Linked DNA regions of Homo sapiens. The protein of the gene in region 2 purifies or fractionates together with the protein of the main gene of each other region. This does not show direct contact. Each region holds a gene or a part of one and is shown on either strand. Other genes may lie near its edges.

Evidence for each region. Proteins that work in one complex are often made in the same cells at the same time.
Region 1: the proteins of HSDL2 (region 2) and MIPEP purify together in Homo sapiens (affinity purification with mass spectrometry; 2 studies listed by BioGRID and IntAct, with this or other methods). This does not show direct contact.
Region 3: the proteins of HSDL2 (region 2) and NIPSNAP3A purify together in Homo sapiens (affinity purification with mass spectrometry; 2 studies listed by BioGRID and IntAct, with this or other methods). This does not show direct contact.

The regions. Positions count from the first base shown.
Region 1 is NC_000013.11:23,864,853-23,872,601, reverse strand, and holds part of MIPEP (mitochondrial intermediate peptidase), read left to right. Parts: intron 1-2,406; coding exon 2,407-2,589; intron 2,590-3,153; coding exon 3,154-3,310; intron 3,311-7,749. UniProt on the Homo sapiens protein: Cleaves proteins, imported into the mitochondrion, to their mature size.
Region 2 is NC_000009.12:112,403,770-112,411,518, forward strand, and holds part of HSDL2 (hydroxysteroid dehydrogenase-like protein 2), read left to right. Parts: intron 1-225; coding exon 226-389; intron 390-1,854; coding exon 1,855-1,953; intron 1,954-5,137; coding exon 5,138-5,252; intron 5,253-7,749. UniProt on the Homo sapiens protein: Has apparently no steroid dehydrogenase activity. Controls bile acid (BA) and lipid metabolism in response to nutritional cues.
Region 3 is NC_000009.12:104,750,482-104,758,230, reverse strand, and holds part of NIPSNAP3A (protein NipSnap homolog 3A), read right to left. Parts: intron 7,276-7,749; coding exon 7,065-7,275; intron 5,326-7,064; coding exon 5,167-5,325; intron 3,681-5,166; coding exon 3,531-3,680; intron 1-3,530.

The DNA.
Region 1 (7,749 bases), on a different chromosome or scaffold from region 2:
AGGACAGGATATAAAGTAGACATGTTCCATTTTTCAAAAGAGAGACCATGAAATAAACCCACCAACAAAATCTATAAATCATCAAAGCCTATGTTCTTTCCAGTTGGTTTCTTATTTATTTATTATTATTATTATTTTTTGAGACAGAGTTTCACTCTTGTTTCCCAGGCTGGAGTGCAATTGGGCAATCTTGGCTCACCGCAACCTCCGCCTCCCGGGTTCAAGCGATTCTTCTGCCTCAGCCTCCTGAGTAGCTGGGATTACAGGCATGTGCCACCACGCCCAGCTAATTTTGTATTTTTGGTAGAGACGGGGTTTCTCCATGTTGGTCAGGCTGGTCTCGAACTCCCGACCTCAGGTGATCCACCTGCCTCAGCCTCCCAAAGTTCTGGGATTATAGGCGTGAGCCACTGCACCCGGCCTTAATTTTTAAGGTCTCATACAAATATAACTTATAAGTTTAAATGTAATAGAAATGTTTATTTTTAACATTATTTAATAACACAGAAATTTCATAGAATTTTTCAAGAGTTCAGATTATTGTACATTTCATTGTTACCACAGAATGATGAAGTGATATGCCTGGCAGATCATTGAAGTTGGCATGAACTCAGTTTTGATTTTTCCAGAGGTTTTATCAGTAGATAAAATCTTCAAAGTAGTTAATTTTATCACATTTTTTTTTTCAAAGTAAAAGTTTTGAAGACAATTTTGGAACTGTAATGTGATTTCAAAATCTTGTTCATCTTTTTTGTTATTCCACTTGTTACCATTAGGTGGTGATAAATGGCCATATCAAACAAAATAAGCAAAGAGAAATCTGGACTGTAAGGAAATGGGAGTCTCCTAAAACTTTTTTCCATGAAATTTGAATTTTCTATATTGAAATTCTGGGGATATTGATATATACTCAATTTTTTCAGCATCTTATCAAGCATGCCTCTACATCATCTATGTTTATCTTTAAAAAGTATATTAGTATTGTGGCTTAATCATTTTTTAGGAGCATAGAACAGTTTAGAACTTGTTAATTGCTATCTCCTCTCCCAGAAAGATTTGTGTACACTTTCACCTGAAGCCCAACATGAGCCCAGTGCGGAGCCTGTCTAGTTTTTTGGTAACCAGTAACTGAAAATTCATATGCAGAGCCTGTCTAGTTTTTGAGTAACCAATAACTGAAAATTCATCTGCAGAGCCTGTCTAGTTTTTGAGTAGCCAATAACTGAAAATTCAGCCCTTCTCCTCCAGTCAGCCTAATTATGTGGTTTCTAGTTTATATTTAATCTTAGAGCATTTATGGCAACCCCTTTGCTAATACACGTTTTCTCAGGTTATTGTGTATTACAAAGATATGACTGCAAGATTAAACCTAAGCAGATGTGTCCGCACCATCCACGTCCTCATCACTGACCATTTGAAGGCCTGGCAGGAGCAAGGACCATGTGCCACATGGCAGGGACACAGAGTAGAAGAAAGGACCATGCCCTGGGGTTCCAGTCTGCTTCTTAGACTTCACTGTATCATTCTGTAGCAGCTCAAGCACATGCAAAATCAGAACTTTATTCCCCCCTGAGACAGGGTCTCGCTTTGTTGCCCAGGTTGCAGTGGTGTGATCGTAGCTCACTGAAGCCTTACCTCCTGGGCTCAAGTGATCCTGCTGCCTCAGCCCCACATAGGGCTGGGACTGCAGGCGTGTGCTACCACACCCAAAATCAGAACTTTTAAAATGTGCTTCCCCCTTCTGGAGGCTCACTACACTTTTGCAAATAACTGTTTTTTTGTTTTTTGTTTTTTTTTGAGACAGAGTCTCCCTCTGTCTCACAGGCTGGAGTACAGTGGTGCGATCTCGGCTCATTGCAACCTCCGCCTCCTGGGTTCGAGCGATTCTCGTGCCTCAGCCTCTTGAGTAGCTGAGATTATAGGCACGTGCCACCACGCCCAGCTAATTTTTGTATTTTTAGTAGAGATGGGATTTCACCATGTTGGCCAGACTGGTCTCCAACCCCTGACCTCAAGTGATCTGCCCTCCTTGGCCTCCCAAAGTGCTGGGATTACAGGCGTGAGTCACTGCACCTGGCATGTGTTTTTCAATGTTGTTAATTTCAACAATTAGTTATATAACCTAGACATAAAATAGAACTAGAAGTTATGTAAATCTTAAAACATAGAAACATCAGAAAACCATAAGTATGATCTTTTTGTTAGAATATTAAATATCTGTTAAAAGTAAAATTAATATATTATTTATAATATAGTAACAATATATTCATTTTACTAAACTAATATTTTATTAAGTGATAATTCAACAATATATATGTTGATTTGACATATTTATATTTTGTTTATTAAATTGTGAAATATTAATTCAAAACGCCTTTAAATAACTTTTACTCCTCCTGCATACAGCGTAAAAGAGCAGTGGACCTCAATGTTAAAATCTTGGATTTGAGTAGTACATTTCTTATGGGAACCAATTTTCCCAACAAGATTGAGAAGCATCTCTTACCAGAACACATTCGTCGTAACTTTACATCTGCTGGGGATCATATCATAATTGATGGTCTCCACGCAGAATCACCAGATGACTTGGTATGTATGTTTCATTCTCTTTGTTGTTTAGGTCCCATTTGTGTGTTGCTACTGTTTTAACCCAAAATTCAGTGATAATATAATAGTATCCTTAAAAACTTTTTAGCATTACTAAGCCCTAAAAATTTAACTTGTGGAATTATTAATGCCATAAACACTTTAAAGAATGAAAATGATTTAATTACTTATATTTCATACAAGACTCCTTATTTTTAAAGTATGATTAATAACACCATTAACTGACATTCTAGACTACAGAGACTTTTAAATTCATGCAGCCTTACTTCTCCTGGTTAAGACGCTTTATAGCATAGAGATCCACGCACTGGGTAGAGGTTTGCCCCACCGTACCTCAGAACAGTACCCTAGAGCTGCAGTCAAGTATGCTATTGCATCCCATGCTATTTTATGACTCTGGAAGCTTTATGGCCTCGTGTAGACCATTGCTTTATTTTGAAAGCAGTGATCATCTGCAGATCAAGTGGTGAGCATGAGCCTGTGTTATTGTTGCATAGGACTGTGTGATGATATTTATAGCCTTCACCATTTACTTTTTAAACGTAGGTGCGAGAAGCTGCTTATAAAATTTTTCTTTATCCCAATGCTGGTCAATTGAAATGTTTAGAAGAATTGCTCAGCAGCAGAGATCTTCTGGCAAAGTTGGTGGGGTATTCCACGTTTTCTCACAGGGCTCTCCAAGGAACGATAGCTAAAAATCCAGGTAAGCCTGTTTATCCAACATTTAAGGGCAAAATAGGATTTTTATGAAACTGAGCTTTTGATTTTAAATAGCTGTAAATTAGTGTTCTATTTTTAATACATGTAGAGAACCATTTATTGAGATTTTCTATGTATTTTTATAGGAACCATTTTTAAATAGAGCTAATAATTTGGCATAATTCTGTCCAACCAAAGAATTTTATTTTATGTGAATGTTGAGAGTAAAATCATAACCTAAATTTTCATTTTGATGTTAGTCTAAATTGTTTTCATTTTAACACAGTTTCTGTGCTGAATTTGACAAATTGGTTAGAATTAGTGTAAGAGAATGAAAGATCAGTATGTTTACTGAGGTCAAGGTTAAATGTAGGTTAGGTCATATAAAAAACACACAGTCAGATAAGCCTCCTTTTCAGAGAGAAGAGTACTGCTTAGGAAGGTTTGTGCTAGGTGAGGTGTTACGGAAGTGTGTCGTTGGGTTTGTCATAAACTTGCCTTGTGCTATGTTGAGTTCCTTATGATTCATAATGTCTAAGAGAAAATGTTACACAATAATAATATAAATGTACATAATACGTTTTTTCAGAAGCATTTATTAACTTACAGTTGTAATTTAGGTGGTGAGTCAGGAGTAGGGTGGCCGTGATGATGGAGCTGCGTGAGACTCAAGGTCTTGGCAGTGAAGTTGCAAGACTTAGTGAGGGTGAGAGGGAGGAGGAGGCATTGTGGTGGGCCCCCTGGGTTTCTGGTTGTACATCTGGTTAGACATTCCACTCACCGACAGAGGGGACACTGGGGGCAGATCACAACCTGAATCCTCGCTTGTCTTTATTCCTTCTGTGCTTATCCCTTCTCACCCTAGCATGTTCCTCTCTTCTCCAAAGTTCTCTAAATGCACTCAATCTTACTTCTTACTCTTTCGTAAACAACTGTTTCCCTTGACCTGTCAGGGCTCTCGGTTAAGCTACAGGCGTGTCACGCTCATTGCGGCCTGGGTTCCCTTGCTCGTGTCACTCTCCTATGGAGAGCAGCTTTTCTTCCTGGTCTGCCTGTTAAAATCTTACCCCGTTTTTTTAGTGCTCAGCTCAAAACCCACCTCTTTCATGAAGCTGGTTAAACTTTTTCACTTTCCTTGGACTCCTTTGTCCCCGAACCCTTAAAACACTTACATTTTTTTTCATATAATCGAAGCTCCTAAACAGATATAATATGTATGTTATGTATTAAATGTGTGTTTTTAGTGTATGTTTTTTCTTTTTTTGTAAGTATCAGTTTGGTGAAAAGTATGTTTTTCTGTAGTCGCTGTTGTCAACAGTTTGATTATAATAGTACCATATTTTTATTTTATATTTATATAAAATAATAATATTAGAATATCATTCAGTGCTTATCCTGTTGTTATCTCATTTCCTTCCTCTGCAGCTTTGTGAGGTAGGTATTTGTATTCGTGTCACAGATAAGGAATCTAAGGTTAGGTTATATTGCTAAAATGTGGCAGAACTGAAGCCTAAACACATATGCTACATTTATGGTTTTCCACAGGCTGCTTGAGACCTAATGCCCTATGTTTTATATCATCTACATCCCCCTTTTGTTTATTAATTCAGCAAATATTTACTGATTGCCCACTGTATGTCAGATATTATTCTCGGTCAGGGAAATAAGTCAGTGTACAAAGCAGAAGAAAATTCCTATCCTTATGCAGTTTACATTCTTGGGAGCAAGGGAAGAACAGTAAAGAACGAAATAAGTAGATAAAGTATGTGGTATGTTATTAGTTAATACAAGCCATGGAGAAAACTGAACAGGGAAGGGGATAAGGTATGTGGGCATGTAGGCTGGTGTTGGAGTTTTAGAGAGCATTGTCGGAAGGCTCACTTAGAATGTGGAATGTGAGCGTGCTCTTGACAGACACAAGCATGAGGCTGTGGCTCTTGAGGGGAGAAAGGTTTCACGCAGAGTCACTATCAAGTGCTAAGGTCTTGAGGCAGAAAAATGCCTGCCACGTTTGAGGAGGGCAGAGTGGCTGAAGCGCAGCGTGTGCAAGGAGAGTGGCGAGAGGTGGGAACAGACTGACAAGGGGCGGCATTAAGTAGAGACTTGATGCAAGTGCAGCAGGTCACTGTGGGGGTTGGGGCAGAGGAGTGAGATGATCTGACTCCAGTGCTAATGGTGAGTCAGTGCTGCTGTTCCTGAGAGAAGACTGCAGCAGGGCCAGGGTAGAAGAGGGCCTGTTTAGATGCTGTTTTGCAGTAACCATGATGAGAAGTGTTGGCATCTTGACCAGGTGGTAGCAGGGAAGGTGGTAAGATGTGATCAGATTCTGGGTACAGAGTATTTGGAAGAGGGAGCCAACATTTTCGACCTAAGCAACTAGAAAGAGAGTGAGTTACTACTGTTAACTAAGATTGGGAGGACCGGAAACTTGGTTTGTTTCAAGTTAAGTTTGAGATACCAAATGAGGTTCAAGTGGTGAAGTTGGGTAGGCAGTTAGATGGAGTGTGGAGTTCTGAGCTTCATATGTAAGTCTGAACCTCTAAAATGAGATTCTGATACCACTAAGAGAGTGAACTTAAAGAACAAGTCCAAGGACTGCGCTCTGGGGCCTTCAAGTTTAAGAGGCCAGGCATGTGAGGAACTGCTAGTTAACGCTGCCAGATGTAACGGCCACTAAGGGAGGTGGAAAGTGATTACAGGGTGTGGTCCTGGAGGCCGCGCAGAAGGTCTGTCTACAGGAGAGGGGAGAGATCAGCTGACTCATGCTGTGGCCAGGTCAGATGTGAGGAGGGCTGGGCATGACCACTGGCTGTAGCAGCGTGGAGCTCACTGGACCTGCAGCACCCAGCTCCAGATTCCGTGACTGGCAGGTCACCCTTGTGCACTAAGTGCTTGGTGTGCTGATGTATTGGCAGGGGGCTGTTGTGCACATCATCACGTAAGATGTGCTCTGGGTCCTTGAGGATTTAAAGCTTAGTTGAGGAGCTGGATATATGCATATAAAAAGATAAATAATAATAGAGGTTGGCACGTTTTCGGTGTCGATGGAGTAGTACAGACAAAACAATGCCATGGGATTTAGGAGCTCGGGGCATTTGTCAGATGCATCTGTGGCTGTGGAAGGCGCCCTGAGGGAAATGAAACTGTCATGCACAGTGATGGAGTGAGTCCTCAGCAGAGCAGAAGGAAGACAGAGAGGCTGACTGAGGCTAAGGCGGGCATTCATGTGGCTAGTGAATGAGGAGGTAACTGCGGTGAGGCACTTAGTGGGGGGTTTCAAACTGAATCTTAATATGACAATTCTCTGGGGACACTAATTGAGGCAGGCCAGATGTGGTGTCTCATGCCTGTAATCTCAGCACTTTGGGAGGCTGAGGCAGGCAGATCACTTGAGGTCAGGAGTTCAAGAACAGCCTGGCCAACATGGTGAAACCCCATCTCTACTAAAAATACAAAAATTAATTGGGCGCGGTGGCGGGTGCCTGTAATCCCAGCTACTCAGGAAGCTGAGACAGGAGAATCGATTGAACCCTGGGAGGCAGAGGTTGCAGTGAGCCGAGATGGGACTTCTGCACTCCAGCCTGGGCAACAGAGCAAGACTCCATCTCAAAAAAAAAAAAAAATTAATTGAGGCAGATTCTTCACATGTAAAATGACTGGAAGAATAAGATGGGTGAATGTTAAAACACGGTTATTAAGAAATAAAACGTATACAAGCATACATAGGGATTCATTTGAAAACAGTTTGGTATGGTACCTGGAATATAATCCTAAAATGAGATTTCATTGTTGACTAAATAATGTCTTTGTTCCCCAAAAATTCCTATTGTTGTTTCATATGGCACATGAGCCAGTGTTTTCAGAATTCGTATACACAGGACTTGTTAAGTATTGACAGTGGCAAGAAACCTCATGGTTTGGGTTTAGGTTAACCACCATTATTTATTTCCTTAGTCTTTTATTTCACTCAAAAGGAGATAACTTAAATTGAAGAGAGGGCAGGAAACTTAAAACTGTATAAAAGATTATCTGGAAAATACAAACATAGTGTTTGTGGTGAACTAAAATACATATGAAAGCTCTGTACACATAAGTCAGTGATAAAAAGTGCTACATTCAGAAATACTTGCAAAACATTTCCTCTTGTGGGAAACGGTGATAATTCTACTGCACTGCCTTTATGGGTTTGTAAATTATGACAACTATGGCAGAAGTATTTTAATAAAAATACTTTAAAAATTCTATCAGAAGTTAATATTTATTTTTCTTATTTTGCTATTTTTTTCATATTTATCCTGAATAGATTATTCTACAGTTGTATATAACAATAAAATTGTTATCAAGAAAAACATTGATCTTAAAAAATTTATTTCAGGGAATTATACTTCTACACTGCACCTATTTTTATGAACAAAGCAGTCTAGATATCTCTTTAAAACTCTG
Region 2 (7,749 bases):
AAATCACAGCAAGACTGGCCAACTGCAGTTGTCATAAATAATTTATCAGTCATTGTGCAATGGGAGTATAGTGGAGTTATCTGCCATCAGATGGGCATGGGGAGGGTTTAGAGAAAATTTCACAGAGGAGGAAACATATATTATGAAAATATGCATGAGGTTCTGATACCTGTCAGTAAATAAAACATTGGGTCTTCTAATAAGGTCGTATTTGTTCTGTTGTAGGAGGCTGGCAGGATGTACAGTTTTTATCACAGGTGCAAGCCGTGGCATTGGCAAAGCTATTGCATTGAAAGCAGCAAAGGATGGAGCAAATATTGTTATTGCTGCAAAGACCGCCCAGCCACATCCAAAACTTCTAGGCACAATCTATACTGCTGCTGAAGAAAGTGAGTGTGACAGTGCCATTTGATAAAATGTCTTTCTAGTGGTTTCAATACATAGAGAATTTGCTGGAGAGTTTAGTTAAAGCTATTTGAAAGCTACCCTGAACATAATTTTATCTAGTGAAAGAAGTATTTATGTTGTCACCTTGGGGCAGTGCTTCTGACCGTTTTTCTCCACCAGCACTTTTAAGCAATGTGAGAAACTCCAGTTAAAAATCTTATTTCATGGCGGGGCGTGGTGACTCACACCTGTAATTTCACCCAGCTACTCGGGAGGCTGAGGCAGGAGAATCACTTGAACCTGGGAGGTGGAGGTTGCAGTGAGCCAAGATCATGCCACAGCACTCCAGCTTGGGTGACAGAGCGAGACTCCATCTCTTAAAAAAAAAAAAATCTTGGTTCTTGAGGGCAGTGGTTCTTGGATGGGAGGGGGAGTAGGGAAGTGGAGTAGAGAGGAGAGAATTTGATTGGTGAGTGGCATGAACTCTTTGAGAAAGCGTTCTGTGTTATTTATTCTCTGTACAATTTGCAAGTCATCATTTTAATACTTTTAGTTGACAAATAATTATCACATACTTCTATTTAAGGCATAGCGCTAGGCACAGAGCCAGGAGAGAGGGCTTAAAAATTCAAGTTCAGTTGACATTGCTAGTTTTGTTAATCATGTTCAGAGCACTGTGGTTATGTTAGAGGAATGCATGTGAAGTGTTTATGAGTGAAATGATGTCAGGGATTTGCTTTAAAACACACCAGCAAAAAATAAAACAGGGGACAGGAAAGATAAACATATTAACTGACAAAACTAACAATCGTTGAAGATAGGTGATGGATTCCTGTTAGTTTATTACAGCATCTTTACATTTTTATATAGTTTAGAATATTTCCACAATAAAAAGTTTTTAAAAATTACTTTCAACTGGGTGAGGTGGCTCAAGCCTGTAATCCCAGCACTTTGGGAGGCCAAGGCGGGTGGATCACTTGAGGTCAGGAGTGCGAGACCAGCCTGACCAACATGGCAAAACCGTGTCTCTACAAAAAATAGAAAAATTAGCCTGGCGTGGTGGTGCATGCCTATAGTCCCAGCTACTTGGGAAGCTGAGGTGGGAGGATCCTTTGAGCCTGGGAGATTGAGGCTGCAGTGAGCTGTGTTTGTGCCACTTCACCCAAGCCTGGGCAAGAGAGTGAGACCCTGTCTGAAAAACAAAAACAAACAAACAAAAAACTTCCTTTTTTTAGCTTTTTAAAAAAATTACAAAGAAACCCCCACCAAACCTTCGTTTTTGTTTTTTAATAGTGTTAGCCTAGCTAGTCTGTCCTGCTATATGGTAGAGTCACTGGTGGTAAGATAGAGTTATTTATATTGATTTTCTGAAAACAGGGTACTTTTTTCTTTTGACTGTGATATTGGAATTAAAGGTATAATATTTAAATGCTTTAACGCTTTTTCATTTTGTATCCTTTATATAAGTTGAAGCAGTTGGAGGAAAGGCCTTGCCATGTATTGTTGATGTGAGAGATGAACAGCAGATCAGTGCTGCAGTGGAGAAAGCCATCAAGAAATTTGGAGGTAATACCTTCATTCTGAAAAAATTATTGGATATTGGTAAAATAAAGGTATAACTATAATGTTAATTTAAAAATTTGTTTTGAGTTTTGAATTTTCTGAGTCTTTGGAGAAATACGTATTTGCTCACACAGAACATGATTTAAAACCATCTGATAAGGCTGGGCGTGGTGGCTCACACCTGTAATCCCAGCACTTTGGGAGGCCGAGGCAGGCAGATCACTTGAGGTCAGGAGTTTAAGACCAGCCTGGCCAACATGGTGAAACCCCGTCTCTACTAAAAATACAAAAATTAGCTGAACATGGTGGTGGATGCCTGTAATCCCAGCTACTCAGGAGGCTGAGGTGGAAGAATTGCTTGAACCTGGGAGGTGGAGGTTGCAGTGAGCTGAGATTGCACCACTGCATTCCAGCCTGGGTGACAGAGCAAGACTCTGTCTCAAAAAGAAAAAAAAAAAAAAGAAAAAGAGTGTGGAATGATAGACTGTGGAGACTGGGAAGAAAGAAGGGATGCAAGGGGGGTAGATGAAGAGAAATTACTTAATCGGTACAATGTTTGCTGTTTGGGTGATGGATACCCTAAAAGTCCTGGACACTGCACAATCTATGTATGTGAGAAAATTGCACTTGTGCCTTATATATTTGTTTTTGAAAAAATTCTTCCTTTATGTGGTTAAATTTCATCTTCTTCACAAAGTCAGTTCCCTCACCATGCCAACTAATCAGAATTATATTTTTCTTTCTCTGATTTCTTTTTTCTTTTTTTTTGAGACTGAGTCTTGCTCTTGTCACCCAGGCTGGAGTGCAGTGGCGCAATCTCGGCTCACTGCAACCTCTGCCTCCTGGGTTCAAGCGATTCTCCTGCCTCAGCCTCCCGAGTAGCTGGGATTACAGGCGCCTGCCACCATGCCCAGCTAATTTTTGTATATTTAGTAGAGACAGGTTTCGCCACATTGGCCAGGCTGGTCTCGAACTCCTGACTTCATGATCCACCCAACTCAGCCTCCCAAAGTGCTGGGATTACAGGCGTGAGCCACCGTGCCCGGCCTCTCTGATTTCTTAAAACATTCATTTGATCCTTATCTTGTACTATTTTAGATCTTAGTATTTCTTTTCTCCCCAATTAGTTCAAAAGTTCCTAGAAAAAAGGTGTTGGGGATTGAGCTAAGGCTTTCATGGTATTATAGTAGGGCACCTAGGCATGTCCAAATCCTGCCTAAACCATTACCACTCTCCCCGCTAATGTTCTGGAGGACCATATGTACATGTGAGGGACAATGGCCAGTGGAAAATGAGGGAATGCTTCAGTGTTAGCAAGGCTGTACTTATAATCCCAATGCAGAGTGCTGTGGGGTGCTGGACTGAAGCACGGAGCTTTGGCTCAAGTGGAGCCTCTTCCCTTAAATCCAAAATCTTACCCCTAGCCGGCAGCCTTTCCCAAAGAAATGTGAATGCCTGTGTCAGAAGAGGAGAGAAAATGCAAAATGATGTTTGTCCAACTGATAGGGCGCTAAATGTGAAATGTGCCACGCTCAAATGCAGGATATTTTATCTAAAATGACTTCACCTAGTAGTAAAAGTGGTTAACTAGTGCCACTTAGGATTTGATGTAATTAGTTTATCCACTAATTTTTGGAGAGGACGTAAGGGGAGAAAGCTGAAGCTTTTCATTCTCCCATATTCATTCAGTTTTAGTTCTTTTTTTTTTCTTCTTTGAAACAGGGTCTCACTCTGTCACCCAGACTGGTATGTAGTGGCATGATCGTGGCTCACCACAGCTTTGGCCTCCTGGGCTCAGGTGATCCTCCAACCCCAGCCTCCCAAGAAGCTGGGACTATAGGTGCCCACCACCAGGCCTAGCTAATTTTTGTGTTTTTAGTAGAGATGGGGTTTCACCATGTTGGCCAGGCTGGTCTCAAACTCCTGACCTCAAGGGATCCACCCACCTCAACTTCTCAAAGTGCTGGGGTTACAAGCATGAGCCACTGTCCCCAGCCTTGAATTTATTATTTAATTTTTTAAAATTGTGGTAAAATACACATAACATAAAATTTACCATCCTATTTTTAAGTGTACAGTTCAGTGACATTGAAGTTTATTATATTGTTACACAACCATCATTAAGTACACTTCACAAAGAATAATGAAGACCAGGTAGAAACAAAGAAAAAATGTTTGACATAGTTTTTGTATTTTTACCATTTTCCTTTAATGTTATTTCACTAAGCATATAACTATAAGCAAAACTTGTTGGTTATAGGTAGAAACTAGATAGAATTTGCAGAAATAGTAGTTACTCTAGGTTTATTTTTTGTGTGTGTGTATGAGTCACTAAAACAAAATTGATCCACTTTGATGATCTGCCTGGGATTGAAACAGTAGGTCTTTCTCTTTTCCCAGTTCTCAAGACCAGAAAGGAGCCTTTCCCTTTAAGTGAGGGGCCTTGGGGGAAGGGAGACTACTATGCTTGGAGGGAGGACAGGCCTTTGAAACTTCATGCTAGAGAGGAAGAAAGACTTTAAGGAATTTGATCCAAGGTTTATGGAGACAGGGAGGGACAACCAGGAGGTAAGAGAACAGTTAAGAGTGGAAGCTACAAACCACCGAAGACTAAGCCTCCTTGTAGTTTCACATGGAGCTCTGGCAATTGGCTATATCTCCACTGTGCTAGTGACAATCATGCAGGTGCTATTTTGAAATAGCTACCAGTCTTGCATTGGTAGTGGTTAGTCATATTATCTAAAGGAAGTATAGCCATGCATTGCTTAATGATGGGGATATGTTCTGAGAAAGGCATTATTAGGTGATTTTATGATCGTATGAACATAGAGTATACTTACACAAACATAGATAGTCTAGCTGACCACATACCTAGGCTGTATGGCATAGCCTATTGCTTCCAGGCTGTAAAGCTGTATAACATGTTACTGTACTGACTACTGTAGGCGTTTGTAACACAACAGTAAGTATGTATCTGAACAAACTTAGACAGAAAAGAGATAAAATAAAAAAACAGTATTGTAATCTTAAGGGACCATGTTGCGTATATGGGCCATTGTTGATTGAAATGTTAGGTGTGGTACATGACTGTATTTGTGAATCAACTGAGGGTTCAAGAGAGTAAACGCTTTTTTTGTGTGTGATAAAAAGTCTTTCATTAAAATGAAATTGATTATTTTGAAAACAGGAATTGATATTCTGGTAAATAATGCCAGTGCCATTAGTTTGACCAATACATTGGACACACCTACCAAGAGATTGGATCTGATGATGAACGTGAACACCAGAGGCACCTACCTTGCGTAAGTTTGCAAGAAGAGTTGTTGGGGAGGAAGTTGCGGTGTTTCTCAGGGAACTTACATAGTTGTAAACAGATTTGAGCCAAATTAACAGTGTAGTTCAAAATCTAGTCAATCCTTATAAGGGTCTAAAAGTCCTTCATTCAGTCAATAGTATTTTATTTTATTTTTTATTTATTTATTTTTTTGAGATGGAGTTTCATTCTTGTTGCCCAGGCTGGAGTGCAGTGGCACGATCTCAGCTCACTGCAACCTTTGCCTCCTAGGTTCAAGCGATTCTCCTGCCTCAGCCTCCTGAGTAGCTGGGATTACAGGCGCCCACCACCATGCCCAGTTGATTTTTTGTATTTTTAGTAGAGACAGGGTTTTACCATGTTGGCCAGGCTGGTCTCAAACTCCTTACCTCAGGTGATCCACCCACCTTGGCCTCCCAAAGTGCTGGGATTACAGGCATGAGCCACCATGCCCAGCCCGATAGTATTTTAAATAGCTTTATTTGGAGCTCCTTTTCTCTATGAATTTAGGAAAGACTAAAGTAGGCTGAGTGCAGTGGCTCACACCTGTAATTTCAGCACTTTGGGTGAGGGGAGTATTATTGGAGGCCAGGAGATTGAGACTGAGATGCACAAGATGGCAAGACGCTGTCTCTACAAAAAAAAGTTTTTAAAATCAGGCAGGCATAGTGGTTTGTGTGCTACTGAGACTGTGGTGGTGGTCTCATCTACTCAGGAGACTGAGGCAAGAGGATCCCTTGAGCCCAGGAGTTTGAGGCTACAATGAGCTGTGATCATGCCACTGCACTCCAGCCTGGGTAACAGAGAAAGACTGTCTCCAAAGAAAAAAAAAAAAGACTAAAGTGTAGCTCAAGCATTTTCTCAAATATTTGCATGTGTAAATACTTACATGTATACTCTGTCTTTCATAGGACACAGTCCTTTCATAGGACTATTTAGGATTACTGAAGCCAGCAATAGTCTCCTTCCTCTGAAAAAGACCTGGCGTTAAAAAAAAAAAAAGACGTAGGTTTTAGTTATTTAAATAACAGTAAGGTCATTCTCATTATGAATCACACTTTATTGTAACCAATAAAAACACTAATACTTTCTTGGGCTTTGCCGGGGAAATGTAGACTATCGAATGAAAGAACATAGTCTTGATCTGTTCTGGATTCATCAGACAACCTGTCTTATTGTCCATTTATTTATCTGTTTATTTACCCTCTGGTTCTATATTTTCCATGTGGATATCAGGATACATCAGGTTAGAACTTGCTTCTGTACCTTACATGTATCTTGTTAACACACAGAATAGGTGGTTAGGAGCTTAGGCTCTGGAGTAAGACTGCTTGGATTCAAATCTTAACACTCACCCCTCATGACTTTCTATTTTGTGACCTTGGACAAGTAACTTAACTTCTTGCAGATTCAGTTTCTTTACTTTTAAAATGGCAATAATACAGTAATATGTTATAGGGTTGGTCACGAGGGTTAAATGTCTAAGTTATTAAGTTAGAGTCCTGAATTTTTCCCTCAGGTATGTTTTGTTGGGTCTGCAAAACTTGGCCCAGACAGTGTTAAAACAAAATTGTTTTCATTAGTTACCTACATTCAAAGTTTTATTAGTTAGGGCCAGGCATGGCGGCTCATGCTTGTAATCCCAGCACTTTGGGAGGCTGAGCCAGGCGGGTCACTTGAGCCCAGGAGTTCGAAACCAGCCTAGACAACATGGCAAAACCCTGTCTCTACAAAAAATAGAAAAATTAGCTGGGGATGGTGGCACACGTGCCTGTAGTCCCAGCTACTTAGGAAGCTGAAGTGGGGGGATTGTCTGAATCTGGGAGGTGGACGTTGCTGTGAGCTGAGATCACCCTACTGCACTCCAGCCTGGGTGACAGAGCGAGACCCTGTCTCAAAAACTTTATTGGTTGCTTATGTTGAAAAAATTAGAAGATTTATACAAAAGTCCAGATTTCTAGCTTTTCTTGAAATCTTAGAAGATCTGGCCAAATAGAGAAGCATTACCACATGGCAATAGTTGCTGTAGCTGAGTGGCAGGGTTATCAACTGCCTCATCAGATGGGGCCAGAGCTCTGTTGTCTTCTGGATGCTGAGGACAGACTAACAAGTTATATCATTGCATTTACACTGTTGTTTTTCTTATATGAAAGAGGAAAGTGAAATATTTCTCATAACCACATCTCTCTCTGAATTGGGAAAATGAGACTTATGCCAAGAGGGCCGTATGTTCAAGCAAAATGGGTGAAAGCTTACTTGTTTGTAGATGTAAGGCATATTTCTATAAATTCGATATGTAAGGTAGGTCTCTATTGAATGAAACCATATTGAATCCAACTGTAGTAAGAATTATGGCAAATGGCTGGGCACAGTGGCTCATGCTTGTAATCCCAGCACTTTGGGAGGCCAATGCAGGCAGATCACCTGAGGTCAGGAGTTTAAGACTAGCCAGGCCAACATGGTGAAACCCTGTCTCTACTAAAAAT
Region 3 (7,749 bases), 7.7 Mb from region 2:
AAACAGTATTTTCTATGGCAATATTAATTTTTAATGGTTATATAAATTCCTCCTTACAGATACAGCAACTTATTATGTCAACCCCTTATTGTTGACTATTTAGACTATTTCCAATATTTCAGTATTCTATAAAATACTGGAATAAATGTTGTTCTTGTACAAAATTGCTTATGAAGTTTTTATAATTGTAATATATACATGTTAGATGTATAGGAAAATGCAGATTAAAAACAAACTAATCATTTTATTTTTGGTGTATCTCTTTTATATTTGGTGTATCTCTTTCTATATTTGTGTATATATGTATTTTTATTTTTTAATTTTAATTTTATTTTTATTTTTGTAGAGACAGGTTCCCACTTTGTTGCCCAGGCTGGTCTCGAACTCCTAGCCTCAAGCAATCCTACTGCCTTGGCATCCCAAAGTGTTGGGATTACAGGCATGAACCACCACGCCTGGCCTGTATTTTTATATATAGTTGTATATGTATACAAATAAACATATATAAGCATATTTGCTTATGCTTATGTAAATACACGATATGACGTACATGTATATCGATTTCTGTATTACGTATGTATTACATAAAGAAGGTCATACTACATTTCCAATGTTTCTTTAATGTAAACAATATTAACATAAACTTCATTTGAGCACAACTATGTGTTTATAATAATACTTTCGATGACAACTACTGACATTTATTGAATGATAACTATGTGTCAGGCCTAGTTTTAAGCATTTTAATGTATTAACTCATTTAATCCTCATAATAATCTAGGTCCTCATAATAATCTATCATTTTATAGATGAAAAAACTAAGGTATGGTGAGGTTTACTTACCCAAAGTCAAAAAGTAAGTAGTGTACCTGGGATTCAAACCCAGGCAGTCTGAATCTGATTATTTCCTTAATATAAAGTAGAATTTAAGTTGACAGAACCAAAGAGCATGTCTTATATATATGTACTTACATATAGTGTATATAGTATACACTGTCCTCCAGAAATGATGTACTGATTACCAATTCTCCTAACACTGAGAATGAATTTAAGATTAAAAAGTGTATGAACACACATTTTCTGTAGTTTTTAAAAAAATAAAACTTAATATGTGCAGTATAGAAAATTAAGGTAGAGGCTAGGTGTAGTGGCTCAGGCCTCTTATCCCACCACTTTGGGAGGCCGAGGCGGGCGGATCACCTGTGGTCAGGAGTTTGAGACCAGCCTGGTGAAATCCTGTCTCTACTAAAAATACAAAAATTAGCTGGGCATGGTGGCACACAGCTGTAATCCCAGCTACTTGGGAGGCTGAGGCAGGAGAACCGCCTGAACCAAGGAGGCGGAGGTTGCAGGGAGCTGAGATCGTACCTGCACTCCACAGAGCGAGGCTCCATCTCAAAAAAAAAAAAAAAAAAAGAATATTAACATAGAGACTTAACCATTTATCTCACTGAAATATGACTACTATGTATGTTATATACTTTCAAATTTCTTTTCTGTATAATTTAGCACACCTATACACATACACACCCAGGCATATTTTCTAGAAGTAATACTGGCAAAAACAATAAAAATAAGGCTTTTATTTTTATTGTCAAATTTTGGGGGAAGATTAAGCTAATATGAACCCTACACAGTATCTGAGTACTTATTTTTTCCTGACCTAATACTATATCCATGTAAGTATACCTTTTATAAGGTAAAGAAATGGCATCTCATTATTGTTTTAATATGCATTTTCTTTAATATATATTTAGTAGCCATGTGCATGTCTACTTTTGCATAAATTTTTATTTTTATTTTTGCTTTTGAATTTCATTTATGGTGATTTTCAGGCATCCAGATAGTTTGAGCCTTTGTATAATAAAATCATAAGTTGATTTTTTTTTCTTCATAGTTTCTTCATTTGCTTTTGGCTTACAAATATAGTCCCAATCCACATTATTAAATAAATTCATCTACATTTTGTTTTACCAATTTTATGAATTAAATTTTTTTCATTAAAATATACAATCCAGCTTGACTTTATTTTCGCATATGGTGTGAGATAGGCATCTAATAATTTTCATAACAGTTTCTCCTCCATGTATTTTCCAACCTGAATATACATCTGTTTTTATATATTCTATTTTCTTATGATAGATTATTACAAGAAGTTGAATTTCTGCATAAAGATGGGTATATTAGGTTTGAGATGTCCATTGGACATAAAGAGATAATAGAAAGGCAACAGGATATTATGATGAGTCTTTCAAATATTTGTTAGCTATTCTTAGACATTTATCCTTTCTTCGTTACTTTTTTTTTTTAAGAGACAGGGTCTCACTATGTCGTTCAGGGGTTGGAGTGCAGTGGTGCAATCATAGCTTACTGTAGCCTTGAACTCCTGGCTCAAGCAATCCTCCCACCTCAGCCTCCCAAGTAGCTAGGACTACAGGTGTTTGCCACCATGCCCAACTAATTCTTAAAATTTTTTTTGTAGAGACAAGCTGTGTTGCCCAGGCTAGTCGTGAACTCCTGGGCTTAAGCAATCCACCAGCCTCAGCCTCCCAAAAGCGCTGGAATTACAGGTATGAGCTACCTCATCAGCTCTTTTATCCTTTCAGATAAACTTTACAAATGTTTTTCTGAATTTGCCACAAAAAATCTTGAAATTCTGATTGAAATGTTTTTCAACATTACAAGTTAAATACCCCAAGTATGTGTTTTATTAAATAAATTTATATCCATATATAAATTTACCTCAATATATATACATATTTACTATATCTCCCTATATAGATATATATAAAACTGGTGGAAAATGGGTAAATTTTTATGAGGGGGGTTTTCATATTTATACAAAACATATATTACTTTTTTGCTTAGAGATAATCTCCCTACCCCAAATAATATTATTTTTAAAAAATCAATAAAAGTACATTCAGAGGAAAAAGAAATGATGAAAGTAACAGACTATTTCTTGAGGTTCCTTCATTTTTTTTTTTTTGAGATGGAGTTTTGCTCTTGTCACCCAGGCTGGAGTGCGATGGCACGATTTTGGCTCATTGCAACCTCCGCTTCCTGGATTCAAGTGATTCTCCTGCCTCAGCCTCCAGAATAGCTGGGATTACAGGCCCCCACCACCATGCCTGGCTAATTTGTTCTATTTTTACTAGAGACGGGGTTTCACCATGTTTGCCAGGCTGGTCTCGAACTCCTGACCTCAGGTGATCCACCCCCTCAGCCTCCAAAAGTGCTGGGATTACAGGCCTGAGCTACCGTGCCCAGCCGAGGTTCCTTCAGTTTAAAAAATTTAATCATTTTGATGTATCAGGGAAAACAGCTATTCAGCATTTGAAGGTTTCATAAGTTAACATTCTAAATAAATAAGATGTAAAACAGATTTTCTCAATTTTAAAAATTACAAAAAACTAAACATTTGGCAATAAATAATAAAACATACTCTATAATGAGAAAGAACCTGACCCAAGGAACTTAGGTCACAATATATATTACAATTTCATATAAGAAGAAATGGACAATTGTACCTCTGTTGAGTGCTCCGTACTCTGTGTGGAACACTCCAACTAGTTTTGTGTAGCCTAGATTGACATGAGCATGAACTGCCCTTTTAAATGCATCACCCCACAGAGCTGGCCCACCAGGTTTCATCTGAAAAGTGGCCAGTTCATAGACTCCTGGAATAGGGAGAAAAAGAATTTTTCAGAAAACATTCAAGCAATATCCAATCACGTTTCTCAGTGAATAGTCTTTCACTATCTACACACACAGATTTGGAGGATCAGACATGCATACATATTATGTAGACATGTTTATTATATTTGCACTCTCTGCTTTTATGCTTAGAAAGTCCTTGCCCATGTTTAAGAGTGAGTTGTTATGCTTAATCATACAGATGACAAAGAAAAAGAACTGGAAGCTATTATAACTATTATCTGAAATATTTTTAATCTATAACATTTGTTAAAAAACTGTTGAGAATGTATAATGATATAGAATTTTGAGCTGCAAAAGTCTATGCTTTTAGAAAATAAAAGAATAAAAGAAGAATTTTCCAATCTATATTTTCATTCTTTCCAATTTCCACTATGTTTTTCTTCATATAATTTCTCCCTATAAGTTTCCATTTTTAACAGGAACAGCAAAGCAAAGAGTGGACCTGAAGTGATATCTTTGAATTTTGGAGGAAAAAAGACAAACCTAAAGAGATGGTTTTATTTTTCCTAAATATCCAGGTAAATACTTGAAAAGTATTGTACACTTTGGACAGAAGTATAGGGCTGGTGGAGAGAAAGAAACTCTGGGACAAGTAGGAAAAGCATGTAAAAATTTCCAAGCAGTGATGTACACAGAGGAGGAGAACCAAGATTTGACACTGTCAGAGAAGTGAACTATTTTATTTAGATAGTGCTGAGAGCTGAGGGGACACCTAAGTAGGTAAAGATCCAAGGAAGACTTTGTAAATTTTTTGTAACCTAAATACACTACAAAGTTGGGAATAATGGGGGAAGTAAAATAACATTTAAATAAGTTTATGCTTTTCTAATCTGACCTTTATTTAAAACTGGATTGAGGTAATAGTTTCTTTAAGTCAGCAAGAAGTGAAATCAGCAAGAAGACAAATCTTAAGCAATTACTTTCAAACTGAGAAACAAGAAAGAAGACACAAAAGTTAGATTAAAGTAATATAGCTTGGCAGTTTCACTTAATCTGTTTCCCCCAAATACTCAGTTTTATAAGCAAAGCTGTATTTAATGATTTAAGATTAGTTATAATTTATGGAAATACTTTTACATTTTAAAGATCATATTATTTTAAAATTATGGCAAAACTTCTTATGCTATCCCTTACCTATCAACACGTTCTCTGCTCCCAATGCACAAATTCTCAACCTCTACTGACCATGTCAGCTTTCTCTATAACACAGTTAAGCTTTACAAATCTGCAAGGTCTCAATTTGAAAAATATCTCATTATTTTATGCTCATTTTTTTAAAGGATGGGGTAAGAGCTCCCATTTATTTTTACCACAACAATCACTGTATGTTTCTATATAAAACAAAGAATTAATTTTATTTTTTTCCAAAGGAACTTCAGTTTTGATCACTTAAGTTCTTTAGTATTTTATTCATCAAAACTCAGTGACTAAGAAGGAAGGACTTACCTTCTTTTGGAGGTTTTTCTAATTTGCACCATGGTACCAGATAAGTAATCTCACTCTCTTGTTTATCAATGAGAGCCAAATTTGGAATGAGGAATTGTTCTTGCCATTCCTTATCTTTGGCCAAGGCTTTCCGAACTTCAGTTCGATGAGCAAAATTATCTGTGGGAAGAAAAGAATTAAGAAAAATAAAAAATTCAATTTTAAATCACCTGTACTTTTCTGGGTTTCATTCACATCAGCAATGGTCATTGATGCCATATAAGAACCTTGTGTTAGGCCTTTGGAGACACCAACGTAAACAGATGTGACCATCTGCCCTGAAGTTGCTCAAGGACAAAAAGGGCAGTAGAAATGCAAACTAACTGTAATGCCACATAATAGGCTTTATAGGCTCAACCATATAGTAGGCAGTTTTGTGAATTAGGTAAGTTATTGAATCTTTCTGTGCCTCACTTTCTGTGAAATTGAGATAATAAGACATCTACCTCCAGGGTTGTATGAGGATTAAATTAACACATGAAAAGAGTTTAGAATATAGCGGTTGGCACTAGTTAATACTCAGTATATGTGAACTATTCTTACTTGATTGAGGCATTTAACTTATAGTGCTAGTTTAGAGAAAGACTGTTTTTCTTTGGTGGTGGTGGGTAGTCAAGTTCAGATACACCCTGAATCAAATTTAACATGAGTGAAGTTAAAACATCTTGAATCAAATTTAACATGAGTGAAGTTAAACCGTACTTTTTAAGCCTCTTCTCCTTTGAACAAACAGATTTCAAAGAAATAATGCTGATTCTCTTATTGTCATCCATTCTTTCTCCCCAGCACTTATTTCTCTTCTATTTAAGTTACCCAAACAGTTATATACATTTGCCAACATATGGGCCTAGTACTATAATTACCATTAGGACCTCATAAGACTAATGGCAAGAGAGGTTCATATGGTTTACATTGGGATAAGGAAGAATACCTATCTTACAACTTAAGTGAGGTATATCAGAACTTAGTTTTTTTAATGGGCTGTGATACAACTTGTACCACATCTAAAGCATAAAATGTATTTTAATGGGGCTTTTTCTATTAACAGGGAAAAACCCTAAACCAAACACTAAATGAAATTATTAAAAATTCTTTAGGTATCATCAAGTCCTGATGTAGACACTGGAGTAACAAGCATTCTGGGCATTCTTGTAACTTATTCTCCTTCCTCTACTAAACCAGGCGTAGGTTAGTTTCAACACGGGAAGAACTCTCTTTCATTCCTTTTCTTTTACCTCCCTAGAGTAGTATGACAGTGAATTCCTCAAAACTCTGGGGGTACAGATATGAAACAAATGTGGTCTCTAAACATAACAGAATTATTAAATCTCAGAGTTCAGTGAGGATTGAAAGTTAACCATCATCCCCTATAAACCTCCATATTGTGAAGTCCCTTAAATGGTTGAATTATTTCTGCTAAAATACTGATATCCAGCCCCCTAGCTTCAAAAAGAGAAAAGATACTTCTCCTTTCCTTTTGTGATCTTAATCCACTTGGACTTTTACAATTGCTGCTTTAAATTTTTCATGAACTATCTTTACAGCAAACCATTTTAATATTTTTCTGAGGTTTAAAGTCTAGTTCACAATTTTATCGCTTGATATATGAGATGCCATGTCTTCCAATTTATAATGTAATATAATGTAATGTTTAAGCAAGGGGTTAGAGGTGTACCACTGGGAAGAATAAGAACTGAATTTATTTTTTTGGTATTGCTTTTCAAAAGTCTTAGTTAACCTGTATGTATCTAAAATAATATACATCCAAGAACTAAGTTTTATGTTACATTTAACAGAATGAAAATCTATACTGAAAAATGAAAATCTATACTGAAAGCCAAAATTGGATGACTCTTTACCATACTTCCAAATATGAAACACTGTATTCATTCTGCCTCCAAATTCTACACTCCAGTATCCAACCAATTCAGAGTGAGCTGTCCGAAGATGAGCGTTTTTCTCAAAATTTTCCAGGAACTCATTCATCTTTGAGGGCTTAAGGTAATAAGAACGAAATTCATAGAATATTCCATCGTATTGTCTGGGTCCCGTAGCAAAAGATGAGCACATCTGAAGAAGATAAGACAAATGTAAATATCTTGAGAAGACAGGATTCATTATATTGTGTTAAAACCTAATCTGAATCTGGTACAAGGGACACTCATAGACTCATTACTCATGTTTGTACTTCTGTTGTCAATTCTCAATATGTTACTGATGGAGGGTGTCCAGGTTCTTGGTGTTTGAACAAAGAACTGGACAAAATGCACAAAGCAAGGAAAGAATGAAGTAACAAAAGCAGAGATCTATTGAAAATGAAAGCACACTCCACAGGGTAGGAGTGGGCCTGAGCAAGTGGCTCAAGGGCCCTGGTTACAGAATTTTCTAGGGTTTCAGTACCCTCTAGAGGTGTCCCATTGGCTATGTGGTGTAAGCCGTATATAAATGAAGAGGATGAAGTAAAGTTGCAAAGTCATTTACTCTGTGTACACCCTATGTAAATGAAGAGGGTATTTCTTGTCATAGCTGAAGGGTTTGATTTAG